Linked DNA regions of Homo sapiens. The protein of the gene in region 2 interacts with the protein of the main gene of each other region in a pairwise test. Each region holds a gene or a part of one and is shown on either strand. Other genes may lie near its edges. The genes, in order: HCK, NLRP12, TLN1, BIRC3, TNRC6C, DNAJA3 and CORO1A.

Region 1 (2,558 bases), on a different chromosome or scaffold from region 2:
CACCTCAGTCTCCCAAAATGCTGGAACTATAGGCATGAGCCATTATGCCCGGCCAAGTAATGTTATGCAGTTTTGTTGTCTTAAGCTACCAGATATGTGGTAATTTGTTACAGGAGCAAGAGGAAACTAATATAGCCAGTAACTATTTTAGGGCAGTTAGAAAACCTCAAGCATTGAACCCCAATTTTCTTTCCTTTCCTTTCTTTCTTCTTCTTCATCTTTTTTTTTTTTTTTTAAACAGGGTCTCACTGTGTCGCTCAGGCTAGAGTGCAGTGGCACGATCATAGCTCACTGTGGCCTCGACCTCCTGGGCTCAAGCAATCCCCCGCTCCTCGGTCTCCCAAAGCACTGGTATTATAGGTGGGAGCCACAGCACCCAGTCTGAACCCCACTTGTCTTTGTATTTCTGGTCCCCGGGAGAGTCCTTCACCATTTCTGACTTGTCATACAGCAAGAAGGCAAATAGATATTCAGGAATTGGAAGGACAGGAAAACCAACGTTTTGGTAAAGACTTTGGCATTTATATCTTTTATTTAAATATTCATTTCACTATTTTGAAAGTTTCCCTTCCAAATCACAGCTGTAACTAAAATCCAACCATTCCAGGAAATAGAAATATCAACTTGGGGGCTTCCTGAGAATGTCAGATTGTGGATTGCAAGAGTCAAAAAGAGATTTTCCAGTCCAACCTACCCACTGGACAGATGAGGAAACTGTGGCTGAAGCGAGGGTGGGTGTCTGGGAGTAGGAAGGGGGTGTGGGCCCTGGCGGATGGTGCTGGAGCCACCTTGCAGCCACCACCTGGGCACCCCCTGGCCCTGCCCTGGTCCTCCCTATCATGGCTGCTGTTGGTACTGGCTCTCTGTGGCCGTGTAGAAGTCATCCAGCACACTCTGGATGTATTCGAAGGTCGGCCGCTCCTCCGGACGGTTTTTCCAGCAGCGCATCATGATGTTGTAGAGCTCCTCTGGGCAGTTCTCTGGGCGAGGCATCCGGTATCCACGCTCCAGAGCTCGGATCACTTCAGGGTTTGACATCCCTGAAAAGGAGCCGTGGAATTAGAAACGGAAGCAGTTGGGAAATGAGAGCCCAGGGGTGGCAGGCCCTGTGGCCTCCCCAGCAGGCATCACTCCCCACCTCACCTTGCAAGCTGAGCCCCTTCCACTGTGAAAGACAGACTTCCACCCTCAGCTTCACTTGCAGCTAGGACATGGGCCTGGGACCCAGTTTGGGCCAATGGGAGCTGATGGGGAGGTCTGCTGGGAAAGTGATGGAAAGGTTTTTCCTCCCGCTTAGAGGAGAGTCTTTGGAGAACGCACCCTTCATCTCTTCCTTTGAACACTGTGAGATACTTATGATACTTGGAGCTGACAACATGGAGAAGACCATCATAGAGACAGGAACCCAGAGTCCTGACAGCTGCTGAGTTGCTGAACTAACCAGTCACCAATGGAAGATTGGGAGTAATAGATTGCTTCTATTTCAGTTACTCTTTGTCTGTTATTTTGTTGCTTGCTGTGGAACACATCCTAATGGATTCAGCGTCTATTGTGTGTTGCCTGGTTTTGACTAGTGCACCCTCAAGACAAAACATTCAGGTGGCCAGATTCAATGTTAACCTATGGGTGGGACCATTTTTTTGTTCAGTTCAAGTTTCTATTAGCTATTCATAAGAATAGCCATTCAATGTCTGTGATCCCCAATTTTATATTATTAGTCTCAAACTCCAAACTCATGAACTCAAGTGCTTCCTTTACTTGGATGTCTCTATATTTAAGTCAACTCAAATTTAGCAGAGCTAAAACAGAGCTCTCCAATTTCTATCCCTAGACCATTACCCACCCTGTGGTGCAAAGCCAGGGTAATCATCCTTTATTCTCTCTCTCTCACCTCCTAAGTCAGCAAGTCAGATCTTTTCTCCTTTTGAAACGTAGCACCAGTTCATCAACGTATGCCAGTCACGAATGCCACCACCCTGTCCAGACCATCATCACCTCTGCCTGGGCCACTGCTGTGGCCTCCTCACTGGCTGCCACCCTGTTCCCTTTCCCTCCCATTCACTCTCCATGCTGAAAGCATCGCTTAAAAATGGAAATCACCAGCCCGGCAACATAGCAATACCTTGTCTCTCAAAAAATTTAAAGAATTAGCTGGGCATGGTGGTGTGTGTCTGTAATCCCAGCATTTTGGGAGGCCAAGGCTGGAGGATCGTTTGAGCCTGGAAGTTAGAGACCAGGCTGCACAACGTAGTGAGACCAAGTCTCTACAAAAAAATTAAAAAAATAAAAAATAGCCAGACATGGTGGCATGTGCCTATGGTCCCAGATACTCGGGAGGCTGAAGCGGGAGGATCATTTGAGCCTAGGAAGTCGAGGCTGCCATGAGCTATGATTACACCACTGCACTACAGCCTCAGTGACAGAGTGAGACCTTGTCTTAAAAAAAAAAAAAAAGGTGGAGAAAGGACAAGATCTGATTTAAAGTTTAGAATTATCCTTCTGGCTGCAAGTGGAGAATAGGCTGTAGGACGAGGAGGGAGAAAGCAGTAAGACTGATG
Region 2 (3,500 bases):
AAAAATTAGCCATCTGTGGTGGCATGCGCTTGCAGTCCCAGCTACTCAGGAGGCTGAGTTGGGAGGATGGCTTCAGCCCAGGATGTCGGGCTATGATCACACCACTCCACTCCAGCACTGGTGACAGAGCAAGACCCTGTCTCAAAATACAAAGTAAAGAGTGTTCAGAAGAAAAATTGAACTTCTCCAGGCAAAGAGGGGACAGAGAGCAGAAGGCATGCCAGGGAATAAGAATTGCTTGTGCAAAGGGCCGTGCGTCAGAAAACCCCCCCCTTTTTTTTTTTTGAGACGGAGTTTCGCTCTTGTTGCCCAGACTGGAGTGCAATGGCTCCATCTCAGCTCACAGCAACTTCCACCTCCCGGGTTCAACGGATTCTCCTGCCTCAGCCTCGCGAGTAGCTGGCATTATAGGCATGCACCACCATGCCTGGCTACTTTTGTATTTTTAGTACAGATGGGGTGTTTCTACATGTTGGTCAGGCTGGTCTCGAATTCCCCACCTCAGGTGATCCTCCCACCTCGGCCTCCCAAAAGTGCTGGAATTAAGGTGTCAGCCACCATGCCCGGCCAGAAAAATCCTTTTAAAAAGGCTGATGTAGGCTGGGTGCAGTGGCTCAAGCCTGTAATCCCAGCACTTTGGGAGGCCAAGGCAGGCAGATCATGAGGTCAGTAGATCGAGACCATCCTGCTAACATGATGAAACCCTGTCTCTACTAAAAATACAAAAAATTAGCTGGGCTTGGTGGCGGGCGCCTGTAATCTCAGCTACTTGGGAGTCTCAAAAAAAAAAAAAAAAGGCTGATGTAGTAGCTAGAGTTTAGGAGCAGAGACAACCTGGCCTCCGTGGTCCCAGGTGAGAGGGCTGCGTTCATGGATTGGGACTCCTAGCGTGGTGAGCAAAACGGGACTCACCGCAGGGTCTGGAGCTTGCACGTGGGATGCCTGAGGCCCTCACACAGCAGCAGCACCCCGAGGTCCCCCAGCTCATTCAGGCTCAGGTCCAGCTCTCTCAGGCTCTGGTTCACACTGAGAGTTGAGGCCAGCTCGTCACAGGCAGCAGCAGTGAGGCGGCAGATCTTCAGCCTGCACAAAGTCCAATTCAACAAGCATTATGGAGGCTTTCCTTTCTTTTTCTTTTTTTTTTTTTTTTTTTTTGAGACAGAGTCCCACTCTGTTGCCCAGGCTGGAATGCAGTGGTGCAATCTCGGCTCAGCTGCATCCTCCACCTCCCATGTTCAAGCGATTCTCCTGCCTCAGCCTCCTGAATCGCTGGGACTACAAGCGTGTGGCATCACGCCTAGTTAGTTTTTGTATTTTTAGTAGAGACAGGGTTTCTCGCCATGTTGGCTAGGGTGGTCTCGAACTCCTGACCATGGGTGATATGCCTGCCTCAGCCTCCCAAAGGACTGGAATTACAGGCGTGAGCCACTGCGCCTAGGCCCCCAATCTTAACAGTAATGCATTTTCAGACAATCTAATTTAAAAATGGGCAAAAGGGCCCGGCCTGGTGGCTCACGCCTGTAATCCCAGCACTTTGGGAGGCCGAGGCTGGCAGATCACCTGAGGTCGGGAGTTTGAGACCAGCCTGACCAACATGGAGAAACCCCCTCTCTACTAATAATACAAAATTAGACTGGGCACAGTGGCTCATGCCTGTAATCTCAGCACTTTGGGAGGCTGAGATGGGTGGATCACCTGAGGTTGGGAGATGGAGACCATCCTGGCTAACATGGTGAAACCCCGTCTCTACTAAATACAAAAAATTAGCTGGGCGTGGTGGCGCATGCCTGTAATCCCAGCTACTTGGGAGGCTGAGGCAGGAGAATCACTTGAACCCAGGAGGCGGAGGTTGCCGTGAGCTGAGATCACGCCATTGCACTCCAGCCTGGGCAACAAGAGTGGAACTCCATCTCAAATAAATAAATAATAAATAAAAATAAATGAGCAAAAGGCTTGAATACACATTTCTTCAAGGAAGGTGTACAAATGGCCAAAAAGCACCTGAAAAGATGCTCAATCTCAATAATCATTGGGGAAATACAAATGAAAACCACGATAAGATAGCATCTCATACCCATTAGGATGCCTACTATTAAAAATAAATAGAATGCGGCCGGGCATGGTGGCTCACGCCTGTAATCCCAGCACTTTCGGGGGCTGAGGCGGGCGGGTCACGAGGTCAGGAGATCGAGACCATCCTGGCTAACACGGTGAAACCCCGTCTCTACTAAAAATACAAAAAATTAGCCAAGCGTGGTGGCAGGCGCCTGTAGTCCCAGCTACTAGGGAGGTCGAGGCAGGAGAATGGTGTGAACCCGGGAGGCGGAGCTTGCAGTGAGCAGAGATCACACCACTGCACTCCAGCCTGGGCGACAGAGCAAGACTCTGTCTCAAAAAAAAAAAAGAAAACTGGGGAAGATGGTACATTTTATGTTGCATGTATTTTACCACAATTAAATTTACTTTTTATTTTATTAGGGACAGGGTCTCACCCTGTCACCCAGTCTGGGGTACAGTGGCTTGATCACAGCTCACTGCAGCCTTGGCCTCCGAGGCTCCTGAATAGCTGGGACTCCAGACACATACCACCCACCCCAGCTAATTATGTTTATTTTTTGTAGAGATGAAGTCTCACTGGTTCCCAGGCTGCTCTTGAGCTCCTGCACTCAAGCCATTCTCCTGCCTTGGCCTTCCAGAGGGTTGTGATTACAGCTGTGAGCCACCGCGCCCTGCCCTTCTGAATATTTTTGATCCATGGTTGATGAAATTCACGAATGCAGAACCCGTGGACACAGAGGGCTGACTGTGGCTCAGTGGCATGAAGTAGTTTCACGCTACTGGGAAATCATCACTGCTATCCATCTCTGGAACTTTTTTTTTTTTTGAGACGGAGTTTCGTTTTTGTTGTCCAGGCTGGAGTGCAATGACACAGTGTTGGCTCACCACAACCTCCGCCTCCCAAGTTCAAGTGATTCTCCTGCCTCAGCCTCCCGAGTAGTTGGGATTATAGGCATGTGCCACCACGCCTGGCTAATTTTGTATTTTAGTAGAGACGGGGCTTCTCCATGTTGGTCAGGCTGGTCTCGAACTCCAGACCTCAGGTGATCTGCCCACCTCGGCCTCCCAAAGTGCTGGGATTACAGGCGTGAACTACCGCACCCGGCCCATCTCTGGAACTTTTTCATCTTCCGAAATGGAACCTCTGCTCCCGTTAAACGGTAACTCCCCATTTCTTCCTGTTCTAGGCCTTGGCAGCCACTATTCTACTTTGTTTTTTGAGATGGAGTCTCACTCTGTCACCGTGGCTGGAGTGCAGTGACGTGATCTCAGCTCACTGCAACTTCCGCCTCTCAGGTTCAAGTGATCCTCCTGCCTCAGCCCCCTGAGTAGCTGTGATTACAGGCGTGTGCCACCACATCCAGCTAATTTTTGTATCTTTAGTAGAGAGGGGGTTTCACCGTGTTGGCCAGGCTGGTCTCGAACTCCTGACCTCAGATGAT
Region 3 (3,500 bases), on a different chromosome or scaffold from region 2:
GGGATGGGGCACAGAAAGGAAGAGAGTAGGATGAGACTGGAGAAGCAAGCAGAGCCATCACTAATGGGTTTTAAGTAGTGAAGTGACATAATCTAATATATATATATTTCTTGCTCTGTCACCCAGGCTGGAGTGCACTGGAGTGATCATAGTTCACTGCAGACTTGAACCCCTGGGCTCAAGGGATCCTCCTGCCTTCAGACTCATGAGTAACTGGGACAGGCATGGGCCACCTTGCCCAGCTAATCTTTAAATTTTTTGTAGAGACAGGATCTTGCTATGTTGTCCAGACTAGTCTTGAACTCACTCAAGTGATCCTCCCATCTCAGTCTTCCAAAGCGCTGGGATTTTACAGGCATCAGCCAGCATGTCCAGACTCTAATTTATATTTTAAAAACATAATTTTAGCTACTGTGTACAAAGGAGGATTGGAGGGGGCAAGTGTTGAAGCATGGTGACTGGATAGAGACTACTGCATAAATCCAGTTAAGGACTGATGATGGTTTGGACAGTGTGGTAGTGGTAGGAGATAAAAAGAAAAAATGAGCTGTATTTGGAAGGGGCACTAGCAAAACTTAGATGTGGGGAATGAGAGAAAGAGAGAAGTCTAATATATTGAAGCTAGGTTTCTGGCTTTAGGAACTGAGTTACTAAGAGGTGCCATTTACTGAGATGGGGGAAGACCAGGAAAGGACCAGGTATGGGAGGCAGAAAGTCAAGAGTTCCAACTTGGACATCTTCAAGTAAAAGTGAAAACAGAACCTTAGAAAGATGCATTTAGAAATTAGAAAGATGAGTAGGGAGAGAGGAGAGTGGCAGGGACCAGAAGCAGGGAGACCAGGGAGAAAACTGGTGCCACAGCCAAATTGCGGGAGAGTATGGAAGTGTGAACCAGAGTGCGGACAGGGAACCAGGGAGGAGGAATGAAAGGACGTGGCAACAGCCTGGATATGGTGGCTAAGATGGTGAAGTCAAAGATGACTGAGGTGGAATCTTCATGACTGCAAGGGTGTTCCCACCATTAGGAGGACCATGTCATGGTTCGGAGGCACTGCATCTAGGTGGTGATGTCAAACAGGCAGTTGAAAATAACTCAACTCAGAACTGGATGTCTGCTTCTTACAGAATAATAATGAAAGTGGTTAAACTTGCCAAAGAAGAGAAGAGAGAAGGAAGACTATTTGTACAACCCTGGGAAGGCCTCCACATTTACTAAGTTAAAGGTGATTCAATGACGTTCGAGAAACAAGAGAAAAGCCAGTATCTAGGCCAAGGGAAGAAAGAATTTCATTTTTTTTCTTTTTTGTTTTTTTTTGAGATGGAGTCTCACTCTGTTGCCCAGGCTGGAGTGCAGTGGCGCCATCTTGGCTCACTGCAACCTCTGCCTCCCGGGTTCCAGCGATTCTCCTGCCTTAGCCTCCCAAGCAGCTGGGACTACAGGCGCGTGCCACCACGCCCAGCTAATTTTTGTATTTTTAGTAGAGACGGGGTTTCACCATATTGGCCAGGCTGGTCTCGAACTCCCGACCTTGTGATCCACCCGCCTCAGCCTCCCAAAGTGCTGGGATTACACCCGCTGGCCTCCCAAAGTGCTGGCGTGAGCCACCATGCCCAGCAGAAGAAAGAATTTCAAAGAGAGGCTTGTTAACACAGTCAGATGCTTTCGAAATATTCAAAGAGGATGAAGGCCAAGAAGTGGCCACTGAATGTAGCAACTAAGAAGAGGCCACTAGTGACTGGAGAAAGTGGGAGGGTGGTGAAAAAATACAGTTGTCACATGCTAAGGAATAAACAAGTGGGTAGGGGACAGACATGAATGTAGCTCACTGGCACAGTGGCTCATGAGTGTAATCCCAGCACTTTGGGAGGCCAAGGCGGGTGGATCACTTGAGGCCAGGAGTTCGAGACCAGCCTGGTCAACATGGTGAAACCCCATCTCTACTAAAAATACAAAAACTAGCCAGCATGGTATGCACCTGTATTCCCAGTGACTCAGGAGGCTGAGGCATGAGAAGCACTTGAACCTGGGAGGTGGAGGTTGTAGTGAGCTGAGATCACGCCACTGCACTCCAGAAGGAGGGTGTGGGAGAGCTGGGGTAGGGGAAGTCACATGGTGACTGAGGAAGATGCCATGTGAAATGGAAAGGTCACCCACACCTGGGAGAAATGACAAGAGGAGAGGGCTGAGAAGGCTGGAGGAGGATGGCTACAGAGCAAGACCCTTCTCAAAAAAAAAGTCTGGCGATAGATGAGAGAGAAGACTGTGTGTGACTCCAGCTGTGAGTATATGTGTGGCACAGGTTCACAGGCTTTCAGGATCCCTCTCTCTGACCCTAGTCACTGATGCCCCAGACTCTCACTCACCGCCAGCTCCTGCCGTATGTGTTCTGTGGTTGCCTCCAGGGCCCGAGTGCCTTTGGTGGCCTCATCTTCCACGGCTTTTACTGTCTTAAGCAATGATGTCACATTGGTCACCATCACCTGGAGGTATCAGAGGAGTGAAGAGGAATGATTTTAAGGAACAGGAGGAAGTATGTTAATCCAGTGCCCCTCCTGATGTTGCTCTCATTCTCTCCAACCTTGGCAGAGTTCTTTAGCTGCCACACAGCAGGGTCATCTCCAACTTTGCCAGCTGCAGCCTTCGTTGCACTGATGAGGTCTCCCAGGGCTTTGGCTACATCTTTCACTGCGTTGATTAGTACCACCTGTGTGGGAAAGCGTTGGCTCTGGTCTATGGGAGGAAGAAGCGGGACAGGAAGTGATTCCAGCCGGAATTAGGGGCATCAGGTCACTACCTGGGTCTCAGGGTCCTCAGCTCCCAGGCTGGCTGCACCCAGCTTGACCACATCAGCGAGGCGGGTGATGGTCGCCACGGAGGACTGGGCAGCCTGCGCCAACTTCTCCTGGCTCCCAGCTGCGTTTTGCACCAGGACCTTGGTGTCCTCCACCAGCACCTTCGCAGTCTTCAGGATGCCCTCCCTGAGGGAGGGCCCAGCTTAGTCAGATCTCCCCTACCCGCTCCAGCCCGTCCAAGGTGCCTGGTCCAGGTCTTCCCCATTCCAGCGAATGCTATCCTGCCTCTTCCAGCCCCGTGCCCCGACCTGTCTGCCTCCCTTAGGCCCAGTTCCTGTCTTACCGGTGGTCAGCGAAAGTTTCAGTACCCTCACGATTGAGCGTGCCAGCAGTGGCGAACATGATGGTGGTGTCGAGGTCAGCAATGATACCAGACACAGCGCTGGCTGCTGTGATGCAGGCCTGGGTGCCACGATTCCCAGCCTGGAGCGCAGCCAGGACGTGGGAGACCTGGGTAGGGAATGTCACATGGTGACTGTGGAAGGTGCCATGTGAAATGGAAAGGTTGCCCATGCCTGGGAGAAGTGACAACAGGAGAGGGCTGAGAGGGCTGGAGGAGGATGGCAAAGGCTACAGAGTTTGGAGGCAGTCCCACCATCTGCAGGGATGAGCACCGTCACCTTCTCAGAGACTCTCCGGGCACACTC
Region 4 (3,500 bases), on a different chromosome or scaffold from region 2:
ATTTTTAGTGGAGATGGGGCTTTACCATGTTGCCATACTGGTCTCGAACTCCTGACCTCAAGTGATCCTCCTGCCTCAGCCTCCCAAAGTGCTGCGATTACAGGCATGAGCCACTGCACCCGACCACTTCAGCTAATTTTGAAAAGTTCTAAAGGTTTATCTTAATTTGGGCAGGACTAATCCAGCCATTTGTAGACTGGCTATTTCAAGTGAGTATAAACATACATATAATCAATTTACTCTTAATATATTGTGAAGTATAAATATTTCAAATGAGTATAAATGTACATATAATCAATTTACTATTCATTTAGCATATAGGGAATGGTCAGAGATATTGCAGTGAAAGGCAGGTTGATATAAGCAAGAGGAAGGTGATTACTAGTTATCTACCAAGGCTCAAGTGGACAAGGGTCAGGAGCCCCTCAGTCTACTGAGGTCAAGTAAGACCATCTCTCCTCAGAGCTCTTAGCTACTCTCTTCAACTCTTCTAAGATTCTTAAAACACACTGATGTTGGCCGGGCAAGCACCTCAAAGTCCTGAGGTCAGGAGTTTGAGACCAGCCTGGACAACATGGTGAAACCCTGTCTCTACAAAAATACAAAAATTAGCTGGGCATGCTAGCGTGCACCTGTAATCCCAGCTACTAGCGAGGCTCGAGGCATGAGAATTGCCTGAACCCAAGAGGCGGAGGTTGCAGTGAGCTGACATCACACCATCGCACTCCAATCTGGGCAACAGAGCCAGGCTCCATCTCAAAAGAAAAGAGGAAAAAAAGTAATCAAAATAAGTTAAGATGCCACATTTATTAATCGATATTAACCCATTTCCCATTTAGAAAAAAAACAGTGCAGCTTGTTGCCAGTGCAGTATTCTCAGGGCAAATGGGAAACGGGTTGAATAATAGCAAAAGTTTTGACCATGAAAAAATGTAATTGTAGGCCACATGATTTAGATGAAAAAGGAGAGTGTAAAAAACTTTTTGAAGCTGATATTTTAGTTAGTACATTAAGTTTCTTACCCACGTGATAAAAACCCACACTTGCAAGCTAATCAGGATTAACTAGAACACTAGGTGGCCAGTTAAACAATCAAAAGGGTAACACATCACATTAAAATGCTGCGTGGCGACTAAAACAGATGAGATGAGTCTATACTTACCCTGACCACCCAATTTAATATTGTAACCTGCCTGGCATTTCTAAACTCCTCTTTGTTCTTTTTATTGATTGTACTTATTTTCCAACATGCTATAGAACTTATTCAAGTTTTTATTAGTTGTCTGTTCTCTCGTGCTATAATAAAAACTTAGGAGACCAGGGGTCTTTGTTTTGTTCAACTGATTTTATGCACCCAGAACAATGCCTGCCAATAGGTGATCAATTATTATTGAATACCGAATGAATGGAAATATATCCAAGACAAATGTTGACTGAAAAAACTTCAAAACTAGATATAATATTTAACTTATGTAAAATGGTGTACATTTATTTCTATATGTATATGTATTTATTTCTATATGTATATGTATCATATACATTTATTTCTATATGTCTGGAGGGATGTTCACTAAAGTGGTAACCATGCTCATCCTTAGGCGGTAAGATTTCTGGACATTTTAATTTTCCTTCTCTGTGCTTTTCTACAATGTGTGACTTTGTTTTTATAATGAGCATGTATTATTTAAATATATATATATTTCTTTAAAAATTAAACAAAAATCCCCAAATCTATTTCTTCGTTGTCTTAAGTCCATCGAAACTTTTTAAGTAAGTATTTTACTAAGTAATCCATCCTAAACTTATTCACAAATATATATTTGGAACAGAGTAAAGTAACAACTGATTTCAGGTGAACACATATAAGCAATCTCATGATAATCACAAGAATTTGCAAAGAGAATTTCAAAACAATTACCTTGGAAACCACTTGGCATGTTGAACCCATGGATCATCTCCAGATTCCCAACACCTGAGTCCACCATCACAGCAAAAGCATTTGACATCATCACTGTTACCTAAAATTAATTTTAGACCAAAACTTATGAATACACATAATTTGCCCACTAAAATGTATAAAATGAAATATATTTTTTTTAATTAGCAGATTCAGTTTCTTACCCACATAATAAAAACCCGCACTTGCAAGCTGCTCAGGATTAACTAGAACACTAGAGGGCCAGTTAAAGAATGTTTTAAAGCGGGCTGCATGTGTCTGCATGCTCAGATTAGAAACTGTGTATCTTGAAGTGTCTTGAAGCTGATTTTCTATAAATGGGCATTTGGGAAAATGTCTCAGGTGTTCTGACATAGCATTATCCTTCGGTTCCCAATTGCTCAATTTTCCACCACAGGCAAAGCAAGCCACTCTGTCTCCAGGTCCTATGTAGTAAAAGCCTGCTTTTGCCAGATCTGTTGGCGACAGAAAAGTCAATGGCCATGTCTGAAAAGTAAGTAATCTGGCATTTTCGTTATTCATTGCACAGTGGTAGGAACTTCTCATCAAGGCAGAAAAATCTTGATTTGCTCTGGAGTTTACAGGATTTGATGGAGAGTTTGAATAAGAGCCACGGAAATATCCACTGTTTTCTGTACCCGGAAGTAATGAGTGTGTGGAATTTGTTACTGAAGAAGGAAAAGTAGGCTGAGAGGTAGCTTCCAAGTTGTTAACGGAATTTAGACTCTGAACGAATCTGCAGCTAGGATACAACTTTTTATGCTTTTCAGTAGGACTGTCTCCTCTTTTCCAGTTATCCAGCATCAGGCCACAACAGAAGCATTTGACCTTGTCATTCACACCAGTGTAATAGAAACCAGCACGAGCAAGACTCCTTTCTGAGACAGGAACCCCAGCAGGAAAAGTGGAATACGTAGACATTCGGTACAGTTCACATGACAAGTCGTATTTCAGTTCAAACGTGTTGGCGCTTTTCATCAAATTTGATAAGAATATGCTGTTTTCTACTATGTTCATAATGAAATGAATGGGGAAGAAAAGGGACTAGCCTTTCTCTAGGGAGGTAGTTTTGTGCATGGCTTTGCTTTTATCAGTTTTAATACTAGGCTGAAAAGCCAAAATGAAAAATTTTTTATTATTTTTATTTCTATGCATTTAGAGTTTCAACATGGAGATTCTAAATCCTATACTGATACATTTTAAGGAAGAAATACACAATTGCACCTTTGTATAATCTTTATACATACAATGTAAACATGATGCTACAGAGTAAGCTGTGTTGAAAATTAAAACCCTTCACAGAAGAGTGATGTGTATTAAGCCATCAGGATGCCATTTAATGGCAGGCATCTCCACAGGTAGGTCAACTTCTCCAGGCTACTAGAATGTTTCAGTGGCATTCAATCAACCCAAAGATGTAATGTGTGACTCATGAAGCTTCTTTTCATGGTGGAAAGCTCTGCTGTCAAGTGTTTCACAGCAAAAATATTCAGAATATGTTTATTTTGCTTTTTGGAAATTGTGAAATTTAGTGGCCAGGAAA
Region 5 (3,500 bases), on a different chromosome or scaffold from region 2:
TGGTTGTTGATACAACTCATTTTGTATGAAATGTGATTTGTATAATCGACCAAATCAACATATATATGTTGAAATCTAACTTGTAGAAGCACACTCAGCACTTGAAACCCGCAGGTCAGTAGAAGACATGGTGCCAGGCCTCGAGGTCAGGCCAGTCAGGAGAGACACAGCTCACATACCTGAAGACACCAGAGGGTATAAATTAGTAAATTGATTCTGCATGGACTAATTTGCCGTAAGAATTCAGAAGTTAGTGAAAGCACTTTAGGCTTGTCTGTTGATTGCTATTAGAGTCTGTAGATACAGGACAAAGGGTTATCGGTAACTTGGAAAATACATCTGTAAAGGGGCAAAGGCCAGTTGAGTGGTAGTGAATTTGCTGCCAGCAGATAATATTCATTTATCTAATTCTATTCAATGTCTCTGAAAAGAGCGGTATATTGTAATCATATGAATCCTTTTTACTTGACATATTATAAATGTGGTATATCTTTAATATGAGATTGATAAATACTAGACTAGATGATCTCGTTCCTTAATTATTGTCTCATCCATTAGAGCCCTTTGTGTCGAAGTAGGTAAGACCTGACTTAGGAATTAGACTCCCTAGGTTTGAGTCCCAACTCACCACCAAGAGGCTCACTACTAACTTGGGCAACTTGCCTAGCTGCTGTTTGCTTCAATTTCTTTATTTTTCTTTCTTTTTTTTTTGGTAGAGACAGGGTCTTTCTATGTTGCCCAGGCAAGTCTCAAAACTCCTGGCCTCAAGTGATCCTCCCTAAGTGTTAGGATTACAGGCCTGAGACACCATACTGAGCCATGCCTTAATTTCTTCATCTGTAATGTGGAAATACTTAACTCCTAGGTTTGTTTTAAAGATTAAATGAGCTAATATGTAAAGTTCTCTTTTTTCTTTTTTTTTTCTCTCTCTTTTTTTTTTTGGCTGGAGTGCAGTGGCGTGATCATAGCTCATTGCAGCCTCAAACTCCTGGCCTTAAGTGATCCTGCTGGTCTCAGCTTCCCAAAGTGCTGTGATTACAGGCATGAGCCATCACACCTGGCCTAATATGTAAAGTTCTTAAATAGTGCCTAGCACATAGCAAACACTTTGTAAAATGTCAGCTACTTATGTAAGTGCTTCTGTTTTAGAAACAAATTTCATCCCACCTATTATCCTAAAATGCATTAGCTTCAGCTTTCTATTATTCACCTGTCTTCTTAACCTATATTTGGAGGATAAAGTACACTTATCGTTACTTTTTTTTTTTTTTTTTTTTTTTTTTGAGATAGAGTCTTGCTCTGTTGCCCAGGCTGGAGTGCGATGGCGCAGTCTCGGCTCACTGCAACCTCCACCTTCTGGATTCAAGCAATTCTCCTGCCTCAGCCTCCCAAATTGATGGGATTACAGGCATGCATCACCACGCCTGGCTAATTTTTGTATTTTTAGTAGAGACTGGGTTTCACCATGTTGGCCAGGCTGGTCTCAAACTCCTGACCTCAAGTGATCCGCTCACCTAAGCCTCCCAAAGTGTTGGGATTACAGGCGTGAGCCACCGTGCCCGACCACTTATCTTTACTCTTAAGGATTTTTTCTCTTAGTACAAGTTAAAGAATTCATGCAGTGAATCTTTGAAATTAGTTGAAAAATAATTTGGATAATATTTTATAATATTCACAGTAAAGTTATAAATGTATTAAAAGCAAATAACTAATAAAGTCTAGGAAACTTTGGTTGTAAAATTGCCTATCTTGTTGGCTCTCAGCATTTCTCTGCAGCAGCACCTATGTTGAAGAGCCTGTTAGACACTCATCAATTCATGTAAAGAAACCAGCAGCCCATGGTCAGTAGTGGGGGCTCCTAGCTACCTTCCTTCCCTCATGTTCAGCCTGTCGTTGTTATTCTCAGTCTTTTGCCACCTGGAGTTCGCCATCTAGATAGGAAGAGCAGGCATATAAATGGGAAAAAATAACCTTGATACCAGTGTCATGTGATTCTTACAGGGCTCTAGAGAAGGAAAAGTTCACTTTCACTTTGAGTGGTGAAAGAAAAATCAGAGAGTAGGATTAAGCTTGAACCTCAAATGATTGGATAGGATTACAGTAAATAAAGAGGAAGCCTTTCCAAATAAAGGGGAAGCCTCACGTAGCACAGAAGAAAGAGGCCTGGCTTGTTTCAGGGGCCCATTTTGCAAGGGCCAGGCCAGTCTAGCTGACTTTCCCAGAGGGGAAAGTTGGGAGAGATGGGTTGGCGCCAAATTGTGAAATTTGGAGCATTCTGAAGGCCAGGTTGAAGCCCTGACATTGTTGCCACCTTACCTGGCTAGATCTGTACAAGCTGAAACGAAAAGAACCCACACAGCAGAGATTGCAAGTAGGCAGCCCTGTGGCACTGATGGGCTTGCAAAGGCGTTTTGTTAGGTCTGCGAAGTGTGTGTGTGCATGTGCATAGGTGTGTGTTAATGCCAACATTCAAAAATTGGGGAAAGTGGCTTCTGGCTTCTCTTAAAAATGGCTATAGTGGGTCTATGTTCCAGGTAGCAATAGGTGGTTGGCCCCAGTAGCACCTGTTTATTTAGACAGGACAGACACTCTCTGGTTTGCCACAGTCCCCATGAAGCCCACTTCTTCATGTGCATGGCCCACCTGGCTCCTATGGGCATTTGAATTTGCAGCCTCTGAAATAAAGGTAAGAACCAGAATGTTCAGCACCTGGCTAAGTAGTAGAGGCTCACTGTGCTTACGTACCGTGTGGCGTAGTACTTACGGTAAGGACCTATGGGGTATGTGTATGTGGTAAGGGGAACTGCAGCTGGAAATACAAGGGGAGGGGGGCGCTTGTGCTGGTTATTCCCTTCCAAACAAGCAGTCTGTCCTGCTCCAAACTAGTGTCCTCATCAGAAACTCTTTACTTCAACCTTCTTTTCATTGTCCTCCTCATCATCTTTCTTTATTAACCTAGCTTAGTGCAGGTCCTGGACAAATAACCAGGTACCTGCTTTTAGCTATAAGGAATGAGCCCAGAAGCCTCAGCTCACCATCCCAGCTGGGGGCAGATGGCAGCACCCCCGCTGTCAAATAGTTCAGTTCCTTAAAAGTAGTTTGATACTTAATTCACAGACTCTTTCAGAGCAGACTTTTGTAAAGGAAACTCACTAAAGGTAGAACTGAATTATCCTATCAGTCTGTTTCATAGGTGGTACTTTAGAGTTCTGGAAAAGTGTTTTTGACCTGATGAGTTTCCGTAAGATATCCCAAAACAAAGAAAGATTTTCCTAATAGTTTGGACTTTTTCTATTTTCCTGTGGACTCTGAGAAGCCTCAGGACCATGTTTATTCAGCACTGAAACAAGTAAAATGAAGAGAATTGTGGGCCTTACTTAATCAAAGACTATTCACATTTTCACCTTAATTTAGGAATAATATTCCTAGAAATACATGTTGTTATGACGATAAGTAGTATTTTTTCACCAGCACTAAAAGTTATAGTTAAAATATTTTGC
Region 6 (3,500 bases), on a different chromosome or scaffold from region 2:
TTCCCTCTCTGTTCGCCAGAAGATGGACCTGTTTATCCCTGCAAGTGCTGAGTCTCTAAGCACACCATGGTCTTTCTGGGAGACCGGGGTCAGCTCTTAAGGTTTTCAGCAGCTACATTAAGATACTAAACGCATCAAAAACTATGCTGGTCAGGCACAGTGGCTCATGTCTGTAATTCCAACACTCTGGGAGGCCAAGGTGGGAGGATCACTTGAGTCCAGGAGTTTGAGGCTGCCGTGAGCTATGACTGCACCACTGCACTCCAGGCTGGGCCACAGAGCAAGACTCTGCCTCAAATAAATAAATAAATCCCACTGTTGCTTAAGTTCTTAGGACATGAGAATTATATGTCCTGTAATACTGTCATATGTGGATGCAAAACTAACTGTCTTCACAGTATAATGAGAGACTTAACCACCCACAGGCAGCAGACTGACATGTGACGGTGTATGCTTAGGGACAGAGTCTTGCCCTGGCACCCAGGCTGGAGTACAGTGTCGCTGTCATGACTCACCGCAGCCTTGAGTACTAAGGCTCAAGTGATCTTCTCATCTCAGCTTCCCAAGTAGCTGGTGATAGAGGTGCATACTACTTTGCACCTGGCTAGTTTTGAAATTTTTTGTAGAGACAGAGTCTCGCTATATTGCCCAGGCTGGTCTCGAACTCCTGGGTTCAAGTGATCTTCCTGCATTAGCCGCCCAAAGTGCTGGGATTATAGGTGTGAGCCGCTGCATCCGGCCTCACCAAGATCTTTAAAAGGAAGAGCTGACAGTGTCTTGCACACAGGAGAAGACATCCTGGCTGAGTGAGGGAACAGCTGAGTGAGGCTGAGTGATCAGGACAAGTAACCATGGAAGTGACAAAGGATCTCAGTGGGTGGCGGAATCAACTTTCAACTTACAGTATCAGAGAGAGGGTCAAAACATCAACTGGTGACCAGTAATACCCAACCTCCAACAGAGTAAGCAACACCCACGAACCCACCCAGGGCCCGGCCGTAGCACACCTCAAGCTACCCTGATGGGCGGGAGGAGGGAAGGACAGCTGTCTATGGAACCAATCTCGCATGTTATGTGATTGTAGGGTTTGAGGAAGGAGAAGCCACAGGTGCACTGATTAGAGTTCCGGGGAATAGCTACTCTATTACCACTTCTATTTTAGTTCAAGAGATACAACAAGAACAAAAGATAGTATACATATACACAGTATATGTACCAAACCATTAAAATAAGTGACATTTGGAACCTGGTTGGGCTACAGAGTTTTGTGGCAGCTGCTTTTTTGTTGTTGTTTTTTTGAGACAGAGTCTCGCTATGTCACCCAGGCTGTAGTGCAGTGGTGCAATCTTGGCTCACTGCACCCTCTGCCTCCTGGATTCAAGCAATTATCCTGCCTCAGCCTCCAGAGTAGCTGGGATTATGGATGCCCACCACCATGCCCCGCTAGTTTTTGTATTTTTTTTTTTTTTTTAGTAGAGACAGGGTTTCACCATGTTGGTCAGGCTGGTCTCAAACTCCTGACCTCGTGATCCACCCTCCTCGGCGTCCCAAAGTGCTAGGATTACAGGCGTGAGCCACCGCGCCAGGCCCTTTTTTTTTTTTTTTTTTTTTTTTTCAGAGAGTCTCACTGTCACCCAAGCTGGAGTGCAGTGGTGTGGTCTTGGCTCACTGCATCCTCTGCCTCCTGGGTTCAAGCGATTCTCCTGCCTCAGCGTCCTGAGTAGCTGAGATTACAGGCATGCACCACCATACCCAGCTAATTTTTGTATTTTTAGTAGGGATGGGGTTTCGCCATGCTGTCCAGGCTGGTCTCAAACTCCTGACTTCAAGTGATCCACCTGCCCCTGCCTCCCAAAGTGCTGGGATTACAGGCAAGAGCCACTGCGCCCGGCCGGCAGCTGCTTTTTAACAGAGGAATTCCAGTCCCCTGGGAGCAACAGGAGCTCAGTGAAATTCCAGGGACTTCCATCCCAGCCCCTGCCCCTGCCCCTGGAGCTCCAAATCCTCCACTTTATTGGAAAATCGGCCCCCAGCTCCAAACACCTGCTACGAATTACCATGCACTAATCTAAGGCTGCTCAAGTTCTGAGAACTCCACCCAGGATCCAAACAAAAACAAAATGATGCAATGAGGAGGAAATACATGCCGCCTGAACCAAGGACCCCTGGGCACAGCCTGCCCTGCCCTGAGCCAGGAGTCCCAGGAAAGAGGCCCCAGACCCCATGGGAAGAGGGGCTGCAGCTGGGGTGCCATTGTCTCAGCGCCCACAGCAGGTGTTCTGGTGACAGATCCCTAACACAGCCACTCGCTAGCACGATGTCTGAGCTCAGGGTAAATGGTGCATCTGTTCACGGCTAGATAACTTGGAGGGAGTCCTGCTCTAAAGCGGCGGACGGAGTCTGCTGACTGCGGCTCCACTGCTGTGGCTGCTGTTGTTTTAAGACACTCTGAAATCCTGGCGGAGTGTCCCAGGTGGGAAGTGCACAAATCCTTCCAATCCATGCTCTCTCCTTACGCTTTTGCCAGGAGCTCTCAGGGAAGGATTTGTCCGAGGTCACAGGGCAAGTGGCAGAACCAAGAATAGAACTCAGAACACTGGGTCTGAGACACGCAGAGCTGCCTGCAGGAAGTGCCCTGGTGCTCTCACCTCAGCACAGAAACACACACAGAGAGAGGAGGCGAAGCTTGGACTGGGGGCTGCGGCTCCCTGCCCGCTGTCCCCGCCCACAGCCCCCCTCTTTCAACTGCACATTTTAAAGGCTTCATGAAGAACCCGAAGTGGAAACCCCAACATGCTGCCCTGAATTGTCCATACCCTGGGGGGCTCTGAGGCCCCCACGTGTCACCATGTAGTCTTCAGACTCCTTACCAGAGCTGGTGAGGGTGACGCCGTTCACCGTCCCCTCCACATCTGTCTCGTCCTCGGCGTAGCTCAGGATCAGGCTCTGCTGCCGGCTCGTTAGCCTCCTGTGGACCGAGCAGAGTCAGCAGCCAAGGCTTCCGCCGGGAAGCTTTGGAAAGAACTCACAGGCAGCCAGCACCCTCGCAGCACATGGGAAGAGAGGGACCCAACCTTGGCAGGGGCGGACACCCTGAGCCAGTGCAGCGGTGAGAACCTAAGGACCATGCCCTCAAAGCTTCTGTACAGAAAAGCTCCTAAAACACCCTACACTAAGTCATTTAAACAAGTGTCACTGTGGCTATGCTAAATACAGTTTACAGGAGGGGAAACAGATTTTACCAGTGTGTATGTGAAGCAAGTAAGAAATTATCTAATTAGGCCAGGCGCAGTGGCTCATGCCTGTAATCCCAGCATTTTGGGAGGCCAAGGTGGGCGGATCACAAGGTCAGGAGATAGAGACCATCCTGGCCAACAAGGTGAAACCCCGTCTCTACTGAAAATACAAAAATTAGCTGGGCGTGGCGGCACATGCCTATAGTCCCAGCTACTTGGGAGGCTGAGGCAGGAGAATTGCTTAAATCTGGGAGGTGGAGATTG
Region 7 (2,975 bases), on a different chromosome or scaffold from region 2:
GACGTGTGGACAAGAATGCGCCCACGGTCTGTGGCCACACAGCCCCTGTGCTAGACATCGCCTGGTGCCCGCACAATGACAACGTCATTGCCAGTGGCTCCGAGGACTGCACAGTCATGGTGAGTGGTGGTGGGGACCCAGGGGCTGGGAGAGGGGCTCTAGGATGGGATCTGACATTTGGAGTCCTGAAGACTCACTGGCCCCTCCTCTGCAGGTGTGGGAGATCCCAGATGGGGGCCTGATGCTGCCCCTGCGGGAGCCCGTCGTCACCCTGGAGGGCCACACCAAGCGTGTGGGCATTGTGGCCTGGCACACCACAGCCCAGAACGTGCTGCTCAGTGCAGGTGCTGCGGGAGGAGGGGCTTGGGGGTGGCTCGTGGCCTGCAGTGGATGAGGGCAGGAGGCTCATGGCTTCTGACACTGTGGGGAACGTGCAGGTTGTGACAACGTGATCATGGTGTGGGACGTGGGCACTGGGGCGGCCATGCTGACACTGGGCCCAGAGGTGCACCCAGACACGATCTACAGTGTGGACTGGAGCCGAGATGGAGGCCTCATTTGTACCTCCTGCCGTGACAAGCGCGTGCGCATCATCGAGCCCCGCAAAGGCACTGTCGTAGCTGTGAGTCGCCATCTACCCTGACCTTTGACCCTACAGCCTTTATCCTTCTTATCCACCATCAGCCAGGCCCTTGGATGCTGCCCTCCCTCGCCTCCACCTGGGACTGGCCCCGTAGGGTATGTACGGGTGCCTGACCTACCACCTCCCTTTCCTTGCAGGAGAAGGACCGTCCCCACGAGGGGACCCGGCCCGTGCGTGCAGTGTTCGTGTCGGAGGGGAAGATCCTGACCACGGGCTTCAGCCGCATGAGTGAGCGGCAGGTGGCGCTGTGGGACACAGTGAGTGCTGGGGCAGGAAGCCGAGGGCCCCCAGGCTGGGAACCAAGACTGGAGGTTTCGTCCCTGCTCTGCCACTCACCTGGCAGGATGGCCATGGGCCTCAGTTTACCCAGGCGTGAGATGGTTGTTCCCACTGGTTGGTCGGGAGGGCCCTCACAGGTCACTGCCCAGGGAAGACCACCATCCCAGGGCCTGGGATGTTACCTCTCACCTGTGTCTACAGAAGCACCTGGAGGAGCCGCTGTCCCTGCAGGAGCTGGACACCAGCAGCGGTGTCCTGCTGCCCTTCTTTGACCCTGACACCAACATCGTCTACCTCTGTGGCAAGGTGGCCTCGTCGGGCGGGGTGGGGGTGGGAGGTGGGCAGGATGGGCCTGGAGAGGGCCAGGGCAGTGGGCATCCGCTGGTATTGACCCTCCCTCCACACCTGCCACCTACAGGGTGACAGCTCAATCCGGTACTTTGAGATCACTTCCGAGGCCCCTTTCCTGCACTATCTCTCCATGTTCAGTTCCAAGGAGTCCCAGCGGGGCATGGGCTACATGCCCAAACGTGGCCTGGAGGTGAACAAGTGTGAGATCGCCAGGTGACTGACCCCCGGCCCTGACCGCAGCATGCTCCTTGGGCAGTGGGCAGTCCCAAGCCCACCCAACCAGACTGTGGGCCCCGCTCACCTTCCCCTTCCCACAGGTTCTACAAGCTGCACGAGCGGAGGTGTGAGCCCATTGCCATGACAGTGCCTCGAAAGGTGATGCTCCCCCGCCCCACCCTGGGCTCCAGGCTGGGCACTGACTTTGCGGTCTTGTGGGGGGTGTCCTGGCATAAGCGCTTTCCTCACTATCCCTGGCCTTGCCCACAGTCGGACCTGTTCCAGGAGGACCTGTACCCACCCACCGCAGGGCCCGACCCTGCCCTCACGGCTGAGGAGTGGCTGGGGGGTCGGGATGCTGGGCCCCTCCTCATCTCCCTCAAGGATGGCTACGTACCCCCAAAGAGCCGGGAGCTGAGGGTCAACCGGGGCCTGGACACCGGGCGCAGGAGGGCAGCACCAGAGGCCAGTGGCACTCCCAGCTCGGTGAGAGGGCTGGGAAGCCAGGGAATAAAACTGGGAGGGTGGGGTGGGGCTGGTGTTTGGGGCACCTCAAACTCACAACATTGGGAATCTTTGTGGGTCCGGGAATGGTAATCCTGAGGCCTCAGAACACAGGTTTCAGATTGATAGGCCTGCAGGTCTCCAGGCAGCAACCAGCTGAGCGACTAAAGGGCCCAAGGCCAGGGCTCTAGGGATGGGGCTCAGCAGAGGCTGGGGTAAGGGGAGCCAGGGAGGAGCTGGGCCTAATGCAGCACCGGGTCCCCAGGATGCCGTGTCTCGGCTGGAGGAGGAGATGCGGAAGCTCCAGGCCACGGTGCAGGAGCTCCAGAAGCGCTTGGACAGGCTGGAGGAGACAGTCCAGGCCAAGTAGAGCCCCGCAGGGCCTCCAGCAGGGTCAGCCATTCACACCCATCCACTCACCTCCCATTCCCAGCCACATGGCAGAGAAAAAAATCATAATAAAATGGCTTTATTTTCTGGTACCTCCCAGACTCTGATGACTGGTCCCCTAGACACGCAGTTTGCTGAACCAACCAGCCCTAGAGCTTCCCCTCCACCGCGCTGAGGGGACTGACCCATGGCAGGGGATGTGGGATGCCCCCTGACTTACTACATCACAGGAACAGGGCCTTCGTGGGTAGAAACCAGCCATGCTGATGTGGGCCAGGAGGCTGCTCTCCGTTTCCGAGCTCCTTCTCAGAGCTGACACAGCTGAACTATTTAAGGCCCTAGCTTAGAACCTCAATAATTCCCAAATTTACCAAAAATCTGCCTTTCCTAGTCAACCAAAACATCACGTTGCACGTGACTCTGCTGGCACTGTTGCTTGTGAGGAAATGAACCAACCATCACTTACAGGGTAGGCATCTTTTAAACTGCAGGTCCAAAGATAAAAATAACGAGGGAGGCTGGGCATGGGGACTCACGTCTATAATCCCAGCACTGTGGGAGGCTGAGGCGGCAGGATCATTTGAGCCCAGGA

The links.
Region 1: the proteins of NLRP12 (region 2) and HCK interact in binary tests that used the Homo sapiens proteins (3 or more experiments, as listed by UniProt).
Region 3: the proteins of NLRP12 (region 2) and TLN1 interact in a two-hybrid assay, tested with the Homo sapiens proteins (one large-scale study listed by IntAct).
Region 4: the proteins of NLRP12 (region 2) and BIRC3 interact in a two-hybrid assay, tested with the Homo sapiens proteins (one large-scale study listed by IntAct).
Region 5: the proteins of NLRP12 (region 2) and TNRC6C interact in a two-hybrid assay, tested with the Homo sapiens proteins (one large-scale study listed by IntAct).
Region 6: the proteins of NLRP12 (region 2) and DNAJA3 interact in a two-hybrid assay, tested with the Homo sapiens proteins (one large-scale study listed by IntAct).
Region 7: the proteins of NLRP12 (region 2) and CORO1A interact in a two-hybrid assay, tested with the Homo sapiens proteins (one large-scale study listed by IntAct).

What each region holds. Positions count from the first base shown.
Region 1 is NC_000020.11:32,099,799-32,102,356, reverse strand, and holds the end of HCK (tyrosine-protein kinase HCK), read right to left. Parts: intron 1,041-2,558; coding exon 838-1,040; 3' UTR 501-837; downstream 1-500. UniProt on the Homo sapiens protein: Non-receptor tyrosine-protein kinase found in hematopoietic cells that transmits signals from cell surface receptors and plays an important role in the regulation of innate immune responses, including neutrophil, monocyte, macrophage and mast cell functions, phagocytosis, cell survival and proliferation, cell adhesion and migration.
Region 2 is NC_000019.10:53,800,315-53,803,814, forward strand, and holds part of NLRP12 (NACHT, LRR and PYD domains-containing protein 12), read right to left. Parts: intron 1,084-3,500; coding exon 913-1,083; intron 1-912. UniProt on the Homo sapiens protein: Plays an essential role as an potent mitigator of inflammation. Primarily expressed in dendritic cells and macrophages, inhibits both canonical and non-canonical NF-kappa-B and ERK activation pathways.
Region 3 is NC_000009.12:35,701,196-35,704,695, forward strand, and holds part of TLN1 (talin-1), read right to left. Parts: coding exon 3,474-3,500; intron 3,304-3,473; coding exon 3,137-3,303; intron 2,980-3,136; coding exon 2,796-2,979; intron 2,706-2,795; coding exon 2,580-2,705; intron 2,482-2,579; coding exon 2,365-2,481; intron 1-2,364. UniProt on the Homo sapiens protein: High molecular weight cytoskeletal protein concentrated at regions of cell-matrix and cell-cell contacts. Involved in connections of major cytoskeletal structures to the plasma membrane.
Region 4 is NC_000011.10:102,323,984-102,327,483, reverse strand, and holds part of BIRC3 (baculoviral IAP repeat-containing protein 3), read right to left. Parts: 5' UTR 2,975-3,500; coding exon 2,122-2,974; intron 2,019-2,121; coding exon 1,919-2,018; intron 1-1,918. UniProt on the Homo sapiens protein: Multi-functional protein which regulates not only caspases and apoptosis, but also modulates inflammatory signaling and immunity, mitogenic kinase signaling and cell proliferation, as well as cell invasion and metastasis.
Region 5 is NC_000017.11:78,087,703-78,091,202, forward strand, and holds part of TNRC6C (trinucleotide repeat-containing gene 6C protein), read left to right. Parts: intron 1-3,500. UniProt on the Homo sapiens protein: Plays a role in RNA-mediated gene silencing by micro-RNAs (miRNAs). Required for miRNA-dependent translational repression of complementary mRNAs by argonaute family proteins.
Region 6 is NC_000016.10:4,449,868-4,453,367, reverse strand, and holds part of DNAJA3 (dnaJ homolog subfamily A member 3, mitochondrial), read right to left. Parts: intron 2,969-3,500; coding exon 2,871-2,968; intron 1-2,870. UniProt on the Homo sapiens protein: Modulates apoptotic signal transduction or effector structures within the mitochondrial matrix. Affect cytochrome C release from the mitochondria and caspase 3 activation, but not caspase 8 activation.
Region 7 is NC_000016.10:30,186,602-30,189,576, forward strand, and holds the end of CORO1A (coronin-1A), read left to right. Parts: coding exon 1-119; intron 120-214; coding exon 215-344; intron 345-437; coding exon 438-622; intron 623-780; coding exon 781-900; intron 901-1,123; coding exon 1,124-1,228; intron 1,229-1,340; coding exon 1,341-1,486; intron 1,487-1,590; coding exon 1,591-1,648; intron 1,649-1,759; coding exon 1,760-1,975; intron 1,976-2,258; coding exon 2,259-2,363; 3' UTR 2,364-2,475; downstream 2,476-2,975. UniProt on the Homo sapiens protein: May be a crucial component of the cytoskeleton of highly motile cells, functioning both in the invagination of large pieces of plasma membrane, as well as in forming protrusions of the plasma membrane involved in cell locomotion.